2 separate regions of the Homo sapiens genome follow, and region 2 is linked to region 1. The links come from fine-mapping of genetic effects on gene expression. A gene starts in region 1. The other region holds a variant in brackets. All regions are shown on one strand. Distances are between the middles of the regions.

What was found. PIP is the estimated chance that this variant, and not a neighbour inherited with it, causes the effect. A credible set is the group of variants that fine-mapping cannot tell apart.
Region 2: its variant is the best candidate, but not a certain one, in a credible set for the expression of SLC25A23 in whole blood (INTERVAL, PIP 0.62).

What each region holds. Positions count from the first base shown.
Region 1 is chr19:6,458,259-6,461,164 of GRCh38, forward strand. It overlaps SLC25A23 (solute carrier family 25 member 23), which reads right to left and starts at 1,534. Exons shown (of 10, transcript NM_024103.3): 1 at 1,215-1,534; 2 at 1-66. The coding sequence starts at 1,370. RefSeq lists silencers at 1,286-1,345, 1,396-1,535, 2,046-2,225.
Region 2 is chr19:6,409,429-6,412,334 of GRCh38, forward strand. It overlaps the pseudogene LOC390877. Among named protein-coding and RNA genes, the nearest start is that of MIR3940, 5.6 kb to the right of the region's middle. RefSeq lists an enhancer at 2,269-2,906. The variant C/CCTCT (reference allele first, on the strand shown) is at 1,710.

The DNA of each region.
Region 1 (2,906 bases):
ATAGCGGGAAAATTCCTCCAGGTCGAGCCCGCCATCTGGGTCAGCATCACCCTCAGAGGAGATACCCTGACAGAGGGAAAGGGGATAGAGGTGGCTCCAGGAACCTGCTCCTGATCTGGAGGGGACGCATGTCACCTTATGCCTTAGGAACCCAGAGCCCCCAGCGCCTTGAGGAAGGGGATAGAAGACGTCACCCCACTTCTCCCTCAGTCAGCTAACTTCTCAGCCAGATCCCTACAGCCACCACAGGTCTGTGCGGTGGGTGTGAGTGGTCTAGTTTTCCTGGTGAGCAAACTGAGGCTCTGCAAGGTCAAGTCACCAGTTCAAGGTCACAGAACCAGGAAATGGTAACCTCAGTTCTCATCTGTAAAGCCTGTCCTTCCAGCTGTCTCTTGTTTTTAGTTTTTGTTATTTTTTTAGGTATCTCATTCCTGTTGAACCCAGCTGCCTCTTAAAAAACCCTGTCCACATGGGGGACCCAGGGGTTCCCTTTGGAGGAAGCCCTGGGCGATGTGGGGCAGGAGAGAACCAAGCGGAGTGGCTGAGGCCTTGGTTTTTCCCATTTGGGAAGTGGGAGGTTGGACTGCTCTCAGGGTTGCTGTGGTTCTCTTAGAGCGATCTGGGGCTACAGGTGTGGGAAGGACCTGCAAAGTGGAGGTGGGGGCAGCGGGAGGAAAGTCTTGTTATAGGTGCATTCCCAGCTGCGGGTGACCGCAGACAGGATTGGGTCCCTGGCTGGGGCAGCCCGGGACAGTGAGCCAGGCCCGTGAACGGCCCATGAAAGGGCAGGCCAGGGAATGTAAACACAGGGATCGGGGCAGCTGCAGGCCAGGGCAGTAGGTGCCCAGAGGATGGAGGGTGTGTCTCCTGGAGGTGAGAGCAGGGCACGTCATGGGCTGTGCAGTCTGGAGGAGGGTGTGTCCCGGGCAGTGGGCAGGAAAGCGCCCCCATCTCTTCCCAGGCAGACGCCCCCTGCCCCGCAGCAGGGGGATCGGGTGTTGGCCGCGGAACTGCAGGCTTGGGGCCTCGGCGTCCCTGTCTTGAGCGATCCCGTTAGGCCAAACACGAGTGGGTAGGGGGAACGAGACAGAGACACAGGTTCTGGAGTCCAGCCACAGGTAGTCCCTGGTGGCTCCGGCCGCCCAGTTCAGGGGCTTGGGTAACCGGGAGCGGGCGGGGCCGGGAGGGGAGGAGGTCCCTGGGGGTGGGGGTACCTGTTGGGCGCCGGGGTCTGGGTTGCCCCCGCCCAGCCTGGCCAGCCCCTGGCGCAACTCGTGCACGTCCACGCGGCCATCCTTGTTACTGTCCAGCTCCTCGAACAGGCGACCCCAGCGCTGCCGCCGCTCCGCGTCGCCCGGGCTCCCCCGCATGGCGCCCGCCCGGGGGGGAGGGGAGGCCCGGCAGCGGCGGCCTCAGTGGGGGCTTCGCGGCTCCCCCTCCCCCCCCGGGACCCCGCAGGGTCAGCTCCCGCGGCCGCCGGCTCCGCAGCCTCCGCGCAGTCCGCTCGGCTCTGGCACTTGCGGGAGGTGGTGACGGCTAGCCGTCGCCGCCCGCGCCAGAACTTGCGTCTCCTCCCCCGACCTGCATTGGGGGGAGGGGACCGAGGGCGGAGCTGGGGGCGTGGGGAGGGAATGTCTGGGATGGTCTGGTATTGCACAGCCGAGGAACACCAGAGTTCCTTCTGGGAAGACGGGCTAGGGAGCTCAGTGGTCTCAGGTCTGGTTTCAGAGTTCCGCCTCTGCGTGCCTCAGTTTACCCTTTCCCCCTTTGCCCAAGGGGGCAAGGTAGAGCGCTGTCGGGGATTGGGTTTCATAATCCCCTTCCACTTGACCTCCCCGCCACACCCACTAATCTTCAGGAACTCAAGTTCTCGCTTTTCCCAGACGCACGCAAGAACCGTGCACCATCTCGCTCGCTCTCTGCCCGCCCGCGCCTTACACCTTCCCCGCTCGGCCGCAGAAACAGAAGATCCAGGAGCGATGCTCTCCCACTGTCCCTTCTTCCCGCCCGCGCGCTTCCTTTCTCGGTTCCCACTCTGACTGGGAAACAGAAAATCAACGCGCGGCGCGGCTGCAAAGTCGGTTTCCTATTGGTCAGCGCCTCCTGGGCTGAGCCCGCCCGCCCCGCCTCTTCTCCCACCTAGGCGGGGCCTCCCCGCAGACCCCCGACTGCCTCCAGCCCGCAGTCCCACCGCCTGCCAGGAGATCTTAAAGGGGCCGCGGCCGCAATCAGACGCTGAGCGGCGTGGGGAGGGGGTGGCTCAGTGACCCGGGCGCGGGGTTGAGGATCCCAGTGGTCGAGCGCTGGAGGCAGGGCCCCAGCCTGTCGCACTCGCTGCACCTGCGGAATGTCCCTACTGCTAGTTTCGGGCGCAGTTTCTCGATCCACCATTAGGGGGAAGGGAGCCCAGACCACTTGACAGCGAATACTCGATAACAAATCTCACTTTGATTCAGTGCTTTGCACATGCCAGGGCTTTTACTCACCTCTCGAGTCGTCTTTGCCAAAACCCTATAAGGTAGGTGGTACTGGCGTTCGCACTTTGCAGATAAGGAAGCGGAGGTTAAGTCATTCTCCCCAGTCCTGATGACCACTAAGGGGCAAAACAGGGTTTAAAGAGATCTGGGATCCTTAACCATCACTCTATACCCTAGAAAGAATTAATTATCTTTTTTTTTTTTTTTTTTTTGAAACGGAGTTTCGCTGTTGTTGCTCAGGCTGGAGTGCAATGGCGCGATCTCGGCTCACTGCAACCTCCGCCTCCCGGATTCAAACGATTCTTTTGCCTCAGCCTCCCGAGTAGCTGGGATTACAGGCGCCCGCCACCAAACCCAGCTAATTTTTGTATTTTTAGTGGAGACGGGGTTTCACCATGTTGGCCAGGCTGGTCTCGAACTCCTGACCTC
Region 2 (2,906 bases), 49 kb before region 1:
GGATGACAGGCCTGAGCCACCATGCCAGCCTGTTTTTTTGTTTTTTTTAACTTTGCCATATATCCATCCAGAATATCTCACATCAGTGTCAAGAGATATTCCTTGTTTCTTTTTTTACAGCTGTGTAGTATTCCATTGTGTGGCCACGCCATTGTATATTCAGCTAATCTCCTATGGGCAATAAATTACTTTCAATCCTTTGCCACTACAGACAATGCCACATTAAATAATAACCTTTGCATGTCATTTCACCTTTTTGCTAGTATCCTTGAAATAGATTAGGAGTGGAATTGCTGGATTAAAGAGAAATGCATAATTTTGCTAGCCATCACCAGATTCCTCTTCATTTTACATTTACAGTGAGACCTACAGAACATGCTGCCAAGGTTTTGGATTTTTGTCAACCTGTGTAGGTGAGAAGTGGTATTTCAGTGTGGTTGTAATGAGCATTTCTCTGGCTACAATTGAGTTTTAATATCTTTTGCAAAGTTTAAGGGCCAAGCTGGGCACAGGGACACATACCTGTAGTCCTAGCTATTCAGGAGGCTGAGGTGGGAGATCGCTTGAGCCCAGGAGTTCAGGGCTGCAGTGAGCTATGATCTTGCCACTACACTCCAGCCCAGGCAACAGAGTGAGACCCTGTCTCTAAAAATACAAAAAGTTTGAAAGGTGTTTTGTTGTCTTCTTCAGTAAACTCTTTCTCTCTCTCTCTCTCTCTATATATATATATATATATATTTTTTTTTTTTTTCTGACAGGTTGTTGGCTTTTTCCTTTCTTCTTTTCTTTTCTTTTTTTTTGAGGCAGAGTCTTGCTGTGTTGCCCAGGCTGGAGTGCAGTGGTGTGATCTCTGCTCACTGCAACCTCTGCCTCCCGGGTTCAAGCGATTCTCCTGCTTCAGCCTCCCGAGTTGCTGGGACTATAGGCGTGCACCACCACGCCCGGATAATTTTCGTATTTTTAGTAGAGATGGGGTTTCACTGTGTTGGCCAGGTTGGGCTGGAACTCCTCACCTCAAGTGATCCACCCACCTCAGCCTCCCAAAGTGCTGGGATTACAGGCGTGAGCCATCATGCTTGGCCATTGCATCACATTTGGATCACATGACAATTATAAACTAGTTTGGGAAGACTCAGCTCCTTTATAATGTTGAGTCTTTCTATCCAAGAATATATATCTGATCCTTCTGTGCAAGTATCCTTTTGAGTCACTTAAGAATATTTTACTTTTTAGGCTGGGCGCGGTGGCTCATGCCTGTAATCCCAGCACTTTGGGAGGCTGAGGTGGGCAGATCACCTGAGCTCAGGAGTTCGAGACTACCCTGGCCAACATGGCGAAACCCCGTTCCTACTAAAAATACAAAAATTAGCTGGGCGTGGTGGTGGCTGCCTGTAATCCCAGCTACTTGGGAAGCTGAGGCAGGAGAATTGCTTGAACCTGGGAGACGGAGGTTGCGGCGAGCCGAGATCGCGCCACCGCACTCCAGCCTGGTTGACAGAGCAAGACTCTGTTTCAAGGAAAAAAAAAAAAAAAAGAGGAGGAAAAAAGTATTAGAACCATATTTGCTTGCAGTGTGCATGCCTCATAGCTTTCGAAGGAGACACAGGAGCAGGTAACTAGGCTGCCTCCAGGGAGAGTGACCCTGGGTGGTTGGAGATGGCGAGATGCTTCACTGTGTGTGTGTGTGTGTTTGGCAGTGAATGTCCTGT[C/CCTCT]CTCTCCAAAAAGTAAATACGTAAAACTTGAGCTAGAAAAATAAAACAAGGTTGGGCATGGTGGCTCACGCCTATAATCCCAGCACTGTGGGAGGCCAAGACGGGAGGATCACCTGAGGTTAGGAGTTCGAGACTAGCCTGACCAACATGGCAAAATCCCGTCTCTACTAAAAGTACAAAAATCAGCTGGGTGTGGTGGTGTGCACCTGTAATGCCAGCTACTTGGGAGGCTGAGCCAGGAGAATTGCTTGAACCTGGGAGGAGGTGGTTGCCGTGAGCTGAGATCGTGCTATTGCACTCCAGCCTGTGCGACAGAGTGGGACTCCATCTCAATAAATAAATAAATAAATAAATAAATAAATAAATAAATAAATAAAACAGACCAGGGTGGCCTGATTATTCCTTACGTGCCCAAATAAATAAATAAATAAATAAATAAATAAATAAATAAAACAGACCAGGGTGGCCTGATTATTTCTTACCTGCCCACGTAATCCTAGATACCTGGTTTCTGGGGAAGCCGGGGTTCTGGAGCCACTGTGCCTGGTCCCTCCACACCCAGCCCCCTTGTTCGGGTTCCTAGGTGGGCCAGGCCCCCAGCGTCGTCATCGTGTTTGACTGCTCCATGGAGACGATGCTCCGACGAGTGCTACACTGGGGCCAGGTGGAGCACCGGGCAGACGACTCGGAGCTGGCCATCCACCAGCGCTTGGACACGCACTATACCTTGTGTGAGCCGGTCTTGACCTACCAGCGCAATAACCTGCTCTGAAACGTAGGTGCTCCCCGCTTCTGGCTCACTGCACCCCAACCCCTAGGGAACAAGTCTGGCTTTAACAGTCCAGGGTCACCCGGGCCTGGTCCTCGCTTTCCTACCAGGTAACCTGGGGGATTCCCATTCCCCCAGGAAATGCCTTGAGAACCCAGCCTTGGCTCACGTGGGAAGGCAATGGGACACTGGTGGGGCCTCCCTGCACGCCCTCACACAGCAGTCAGCAACACAAGCTTTCCTGACCCTGTCCCCTCTCCCTTCACGTGCATGCCTCTGGGATTTTCCCAGGGTCTGAGCGGGAGAGGGTGGTGTCCCTGCCGTGGGGCCCAGACCTGACCCCTGCGGCTCCCCTTTCTCTAGATCCCGGCAGAAGCAGCACCAGAGAACATCTTTGCCAAGTGCTGCTCTGTCATTGAGAGTCTGCA